2 linked regions of the Homo sapiens genome follow. The protein of the gene in region 1 purifies or fractionates together with the protein of each later gene. This does not show direct contact. Each region holds a gene or a part of one and is shown in the gene's direction. Other genes may lie near its edges.

The links.
Region 2: the proteins of SLC26A2 (region 1) and TEX264 purify together in Homo sapiens (affinity purification with mass spectrometry; one large-scale study listed by BioGRID and IntAct). This does not show direct contact.

The regions. Positions count from the first base shown.
Region 1 is NC_000005.10:149,977,445-149,981,257, forward strand, and holds part of SLC26A2 (sulfate transporter), read left to right. Parts: intron 1-183; 5' UTR 184-208; coding exon 209-907; intron 908-2,848; coding exon 2,849-3,813. UniProt on the Homo sapiens protein: Sulfate transporter which mediates sulfate uptake into chondrocytes in order to maintain adequate sulfation of proteoglycans which is needed for cartilage development.
Region 2 is NC_000003.12:51,695,012-51,698,824, forward strand, and holds part of TEX264 (testis-expressed protein 264), read left to right. Parts: intron 1-3,813. UniProt on the Homo sapiens protein: Major reticulophagy (also called ER-phagy) receptor that acts independently of other candidate reticulophagy receptors to remodel subdomains of the endoplasmic reticulum into autophagosomes upon nutrient stress, which then fuse with lysosomes for endoplasmic reticulum turnover.

The DNA.
Region 1 (3,813 bases):
TTCTGGTCTTTTTTTTTCCCCCTAACCAAGACAAATGAGGCTCAATTAAGGAAAAGGGACATAAGATACCTATTCCAAAACTGAATTCCTTTTAACTCTCATGAAATGACAAATAGAATTGTTAGTATATGTGAGCACTGAGAATTACTTTATTGATGAACACTGGTATTTTCTCTGGTGTAGGAAGCTGAACCATCTATCTCCAGAAATGTCTTCAGAAAGTAAAGAGCAACATAACGTTTCACCCAGAGACTCAGCTGAAGGAAATGACAGTTATCCATCTGGGATCCATCTGGAACTTCAAAGGGAATCAAGTACTGACTTCAAGCAATTTGAGACCAATGATCAATGCAGACCTTATCATAGGATCCTTATTGAGCGTCAAGAGAAATCAGATACAAACTTCAAGGAGTTTGTTATTAAAAAGCTGCAGAAGAATTGCCAGTGCAGTCCAGCCAAAGCCAAAAATATGATTTTAGGTTTCCTTCCTGTTTTGCAGTGGCTCCCAAAATACGACCTAAAGAAAAACATTTTAGGGGATGTGATGTCAGGCTTGATTGTGGGCATATTATTGGTGCCCCAGTCCATTGCTTATTCCCTGCTGGCTGGCCAAGAACCTGTCTATGGTCTGTACACATCTTTTTTTGCCAGCATCATTTATTTTCTCTTGGGTACCTCCCGTCACATCTCTGTGGGCATTTTTGGAGTACTGTGCCTTATGATTGGTGAGACAGTTGACCGAGAACTACAGAAAGCTGGCTATGACAATGCCCATAGTGCTCCTTCCTTAGGAATGGTTTCAAATGGGAGCACATTATTAAATCATACATCAGACAGGATATGTGACAAAAGTTGCTATGCAATTATGGTTGGCAGCACTGTAACCTTTATAGCTGGAGTTTATCAGGTAAGCAGCAATGAAACAATTGGTTATTTCTAGAAAAGTAATCTAGTACATGAAATCTCATATCTCTAAGGGATCTGAGGAATCACAATAATTAAAGGTATCATTTATTGAGAGTTCAGGATATATGAAGGGTAGAGGCAAAATTCAAACCCTAACCTGACTCCACAGGTAATATAAGGCTGGTTCACTGGACCTCCACCACCCAGTACAACTCCTTAATTTTACATGTCAGAAAATCTTGGCTTTGCTTGAGATTATTTGTGGCTGGTTATTGGCAGAGTCAGCATTAGCAGTTAGGCAAGTGGGTAACAGAATGGAGTTGAGAGTGCAGGAGTTTCTCACTTTTTTTTTTTTTCTGGAGACAGGGTCTCACTCTGTCACGCTGGAGTGCAGTGGCACTATCTTAGTTCACTGCAACGTCCGCCTCCCTGGCTCAAGCAGTCCTCCTACCTCAACCTCCTGAGTAGCTAGGACTACAGGCACATGCTACCACACCTGGCTAATTTTATTTTATTTTATTTTATTTTATTTTTTATTTTTATTTTTTGTAGAGACAGGGTTTTGCCACGTTGCCCAGGCTGGTTTCAAACTCCTGAGCTCAAGCAATCCTCCCGTCTTGGCCTCCCAAAGTGCTGGGATTATAGCCATGAGCCACCACACCCAGCCTCAAATTCTAAATGTCTCTTACCTTCCATTAAAATTGCTGATCTATTGAGCAACTCTTACTAAAGGTAGTGGTTGTCTTGGATTGTTGGGGAGGGAGGGAAAAAGTTGGGGACCACAGTTTCATATTATCAGCCAGGAGAAAGGATAAGAAATCAAATTCTTGAGTCTCCCATAGAATCCACTAATCTGTCATTATCATCATGCCCCTGGCTTTTGGCATCCAGGAGTCAGTGCCAGGATTAAACCTTCTCTAATGCAGGCATTTCAAACCAACAAGGGAAGGGGAAGAGTAGCTCACTTTAGTTGGTGCTCAGATGAGTGGGGAGGGAGAGTGAAGATGGTGTGAAGATGAGCTGTCTACTCATATATAATGGTAAATAATAAGTCTACTTACTTATTTATTATTTATTCATTTATTTATAAAGAGACAGGGTCTCTCTATGACCAAACTCCTGGGCTCAAGTGATCCTCCCAATATTGCCTCCCCAAATGCTGGGATTACAGGCATGAGCCATCACGCCCAACCAACTTTTGCCTTTTTGTTAGTATGTCCCACCAAGAAGGAAGAAGGCATAACAATTCTGAAAACTTATTAGACAGAGGAAAATATAAAGAAGTAAAAATGCAGAATTTTTATTAATATGGGAGACAGTGTGGCATAAGTACATATATACTGCATGAGAATGGTTTCTTAGTATGAGGTTAAAGATAATCTACAATAATTTTTAAAGTGTGATTCTACTTTGATGTAAATCTAATTTTTTGTTTTACCAATTAAAACTTCACTTGTACACTTGCTCTTAGCCAAGAGGCTGAGAAGCCGTAAGACTTCACTTTTACAGTAGTGATTTGTAATTTAAGGAAAATACTTGGTTTCTTAACTAGAATAATTTTTTCCAATTTGAAGTTTTCTTGTGGATCCTTGAGAATGTTTTTCTTTTAAAAGAGGTCTGTTCTTTGTGATGGGAAGAATGAAAAAAAAAAGAGGTATGAACCTTATTCAAGTTTAAGAAACGTATGAAAAGAAAGAAATCCAAAGTTCCTGTCTCACCTGGGTTAATAAGTAACAGTGTGACCTTGGGCAAGTTGCTTAGCCCTTTAAACATAATTTTCATCTTTGTAAAATGAGAAGATTGATATATGATTGTGTTTATTCTAGCTCTGACATTCTGTGATGCTCTGATGATATGTCTCCATGCAAGAAATGTCAGGATAATATAAAATTTAGAAGTTCTTTTCCATTTATATTTAACACTTCTATATCCTTCCTTCCAGGTAGCGATGGGCTTCTTTCAAGTGGGTTTTGTTTCTGTCTACCTCTCAGATGCCTTGCTGAGTGGATTTGTCACTGGTGCCTCCTTCACTATTCTTACATCTCAGGCCAAGTATCTTCTTGGGCTCAACCTTCCTCGGACTAATGGTGTGGGCTCACTCATCACTACCTGGATACATGTCTTCAGAAACATCCATAAGACCAATCTCTGTGATCTTATCACCAGCCTTTTGTGCCTTTTGGTTCTTTTGCCAACCAAAGAACTCAATGAACACTTCAAATCCAAGCTTAAGGCACCGATTCCTATTGAACTTGTTGTTGTTGTAGCAGCCACATTAGCCTCTCATTTTGGAAAACTACATGAAAATTATAATTCTAGTATTGCTGGACATATTCCCACTGGGTTTATGCCACCCAAAGTACCAGAATGGAACCTAATTCCTAGTGTGGCTGTAGATGCAATAGCTATTTCCATCATTGGTTTTGCTATCACTGTATCACTTTCTGAGATGTTTGCCAAGAAACATGGTTACACAGTCAAAGCAAACCAGGAAATGTATGCCATTGGCTTTTGTAATATCATCCCTTCCTTCTTCCACTGTTTTACTACTAGTGCAGCTCTTGCAAAGACATTGGTTAAAGAATCAACAGGCTGCCATACTCAGCTTTCTGGTGTGGTAACAGCCCTGGTTCTTTTGTTGGTCCTCCTAGTAATAGCTCCTTTGTTCTATTCCCTTCAAAAAAGTGTCCTTGGTGTGATCACAATTGTAAATCTACGGGGAGCCCTTCGTAAATTTAGGGATCTTCCCAAAATGTGGAGTATTAGTAGAATGGATACAGTTATCTGGTTTGTTACTATGCTGTCCTCTGCACTGCTAAGTACTGAAATAGGCCTACTTGTTGGGGTTTGTTTTTCTATATTTTGTGTCATCCTCCGCACTCAGAAGCCAAAGAGTTCACTGCTTGG
Region 2 (3,813 bases), on another chromosome or scaffold:
TGAGGGGCCTCCAGGGTTTGAGTCCCCACTTGCAGGGACTGCTGTGTGCAGGCAGGTGCATGTTGGTGTCTGTAATTAAAAATGAGCATGCATCACTTCACCCAGTGAGGAGACGCCACTACCTCGGGTGGGATGCAACAGCTGCTTGCTGGCTGTGCAGCTGCCTGGGTATCCAGCCTGGCACAGAAGGATAGATAGGACTGGGTAGCTCAGGGTGAACAGTAAGGCAAGGCCCAGGGCCCCTCAGCCAGACCTCATCCCTTGCTGGGCCTAGAGCTTATGTAGGAGATGTGACCCGTCCTTGGCCCACACATTGCCTCCTTCTTTTGGGCATTTGCAGCCACCTAGTTCTAAGCAAACCTCCAGCCTCTGGGTAGCCTGGGAGTGGGACCCATCATCAGCCTTCGTCCTGGGCCTGACCTCTTCTGTCTTCTATTTGCTCCCAATCCCTAGCTGAAGCCAGGGCACAGGGTGATGTCCTGAATACAAAGCACTAAATGAGGATAGTTCAGGTCCAGGTCCTCTCTCTTACCTCTTTTCTTCCTCTCCCATAATTCAGAAAGACCTGCTGGGGAGGCACTGTGGGTCCCGTGGGGGAAAGCTTGGCCTGGTGTATCAGTCTTGCCCTGTTGTGGGAGCCCTGAGCTGAATGGGGTAAATGCCTGCACCCTGCCCAGGAGATGAACTCAGGCTGAAGTGAGGTGGGAGTGTGTGGTGTGTCCCCAAGGTAGCTGACGCAGTGGCACTGTGGCAGCCTGTGTGAGGTGGGTGAGCTGCTCCTTCCCTTTTTTGCCAACACTCCTGAGTGAGTAAGCAGGTGTTGGTGCAGGGTGGGGTGGTGGTGGGGAAGTGCTGGTGTCTGGGGTCTCTTAGAAATTCCTGCATCATGGGTGGTGTCCCAAGTCCCCATCTTGTTTCTGCATGTGGAAGACCCAGGTGGGAGGGAAGGCCCGGAGGTGTGTCTGAGGGACTGGAACTCTGAATCCAGTTTCTGGCAGACCCTGGGGGCACCTTGGCATGGTTCACTGACTTTTGCCTGTTAGGTGGAGAGGAATGTGAACATCTGCAACTCTCCCACCTTGGAAAGAGGCTTTATAGTCTCCTTGGGTCTGTGTGTGGGAGTGAGCTGCTCTGGGCTGTGGGTTTGTTAGATGGCCAGTGGTGTCAGTGGCAGAGCACGTTCTCATGTCCTGGCAATGCTTCCACACACTGCTGGCTGTCTGGGCTGTGGAAGGGGATGTGCCAGGGCTAGGAGGACCCCAGGCCCACCCAGGCTCTTCACCAGTGGGACCAGCCCAGTGTGACCTTGAGCTAGTGTCCTTGGCCACTGGCAGTCTGCTCTCCAAGGGCTCCCTGGGGCTAACTGAGGGAGAGGCAGCTGGCCTCGCCTTCCTCCAATGATTTTCCAATATTTACTGGCTCATTGACATATTGCCCGGGCCATGGCTCCTACTGTGCAGCAAGGACCTGAGAGCCAGCCCATGGTCACCCTGTCTTCCCTCCGAGGTTGCACCTGGCTGGGAGGGAAAGGGCTTGTCCTCTCTGCCTGATCACTCAGGGACAGAGCATATAGCTTGTCCTGCCCCTCACCTTCCATCCCCAGCCCCCACTAGAGTCATTCTTGCTCAGTGGGCAGAGCATGCAAGGGAGAGCAGTCTCCCAGGAAGGGCCAGGGGGCAACTACAAGCCCCTTCTCTGCCTGTGGGCCTGGCTTAGAAGTTTGCTCCTTTGCCTTCTTCCTGTCCCTTCTCTGCCCAAGTCTGAATTTTGGTAGGACCTGGTGCATGTGCTATAATGATTTGGGGCTGAACAGTCAATGGCATTTTAATTAGCTCCATGCCTCCCTCCAGTAGGGAGGACCAGGGCCCCCAGGTAACAGCAGGTAGGACCAGGCTAGTTTTGGGCCTGAGGCTGCCCCTCCAGGGGTCTGGGAGCAGGCTCTGGGACCTGGTGCTCCCTGTGTGAGATGCTGTGAGGAGGGAGAGCTGGGCAGAGAAGGAAGGGCTGTGTCGCAGGGCCACAGTTTTCTCTCCATCCTCTGTCTCCCTTGATCCTCTGTTCTCCCTGATGGCTTTGAGATGAAGGCGACGGCAAGGATGGAGGATGCAGTTTCCATGGCAACGGGGCTGTCCACAGCCAGGCAACTTCAGAGCCGGGCTCTCCGGAGGAAGCAGATGCGCAGAACAGCCGCAGAGCTGCCTCCCGCCTGCCAACGAGGGGGCTGGCAGAACAGGTGGCACAGGGTGGCAGCCTGGTGCTGCCCAGCCTAGGGGAGAGGGTGGAAAGAGCAGTACTCCCTCTTATTATCTTGTTATGGCCAAGTTCCTCCAGAAGGGAAGCTAGGGAGGTGGCTTGAGTGTTGAGAGGGGTTGGGCTAGGGTCCCCATTGTCCCTGGAATCTCTGGGTGGACACAGGCTCTGTCCTCTGGGATCTTCCCCCAAAAGCCAAATGTCTGCTGCTCTTGTGATGGCCACTCAGCTACTACCCTTTGGGTCCTTTGTCCAGAGTGTGAGGATGTTGGTGAAGGCCATGCCCTGACTAGATTCAGGGATCCTTTTCTTTCATCTAGCTACTGGGGAAGGACCTGGACCTTCTTCAGGGGCCTCCCTGCCCCTGGCCTCAGTGACCTGGACCAGTTTGCTGAGTTGGGTTCAGGTTTGGCAGATGCCTGCCTCTAAGTGCTGGCATTGGAGGGGCCCCAGAGCCTGACAGCTCCTGCTTCCTGACACTGTGATCTTGTTTAGCCTCCTCCTGGAGACCAAGGCTGGAGTGGGTATGTGAGTGGGTAGAGAAGCAAAGACAGCCATCTGTGTGTTTAGAAATGGGACGTGTCAGGGGCATGGACTCTTGAGATGGAGGAAGCCCCGAGGGCACCCAGGTTGGCAAAGAAGATTTGACTCCAACTATTAAAAAATAATGACTTTCCTTCACCGACCTTGGAAGCATCAGGGCTAGGGTGTTCTACTTTGCTGTTGAGCACATGGAGACTTAGGATGGAAGGCTTTGCCTGGATCACCCATGGAGTCAGAGGCTGAGCCACAGCCAGACCTGGGACAGGCCATCCACCTCCCGCGTGGCCTCCTAGATGCACCCTCCCTTCAGCTGGCTGCTGAGGGTCCTAGCTAGGTAAACCTTTCAGGCTCACTCCTCTTTCCCTTTATCATCCGTGGGCTTGCTTTTAACCCTTCTTTGCTAGCTTGCTTTAGTTGAAGGAGGTTCCTCAACCCTAGGGTTGGCCAGGCAGGTGGACAAGTGGAGTCTTGGAGTGGCTTCTCCTTGCCAGGCAATAAGTCTCTCATTACTGCTAAGTGGAAGGCTCATTTCAGAGCTCATGGTGAGAGCGGGGCGAATGCTATAAATAGTCGTGTTGTGAAGATTGGCGGGTGAGCAGTGACAGGGCAGGGGCCTTGCAGTCATCATAGTGGGTATTTGTGCTCCTTCGCAGGAAAGGTGGCGGGGCAGGCTCTGAGTAAGAGGCAACTTGACCCCTGTTCTGGCTGTCCCTGCCTGCCTCAGGGTGGCTCTGGCATGTCTGTGCCCCTCCATACTCATTGGGGGATGGGGAGCACTGGATTCTGTGTCTAGGCAGAGGGAGGTGGAGTGCCTTTTGGAACTTGGGGCCCAAAAGGTGGTACATCAGCCCACTGGGTAATGTCCTGTGCTAGATCTACTTGTCCTACCTGACCTTCCAGTCCAGGGTCTCCCTCTTCCCCATCAGCTAAAACCTGAGTTTACATGTGAGGAGGTATGGGAACCATACCTGATAGTCTCAGAGGTTGACATAGCTCTAAACTAGCAGGGGAATGAATGGG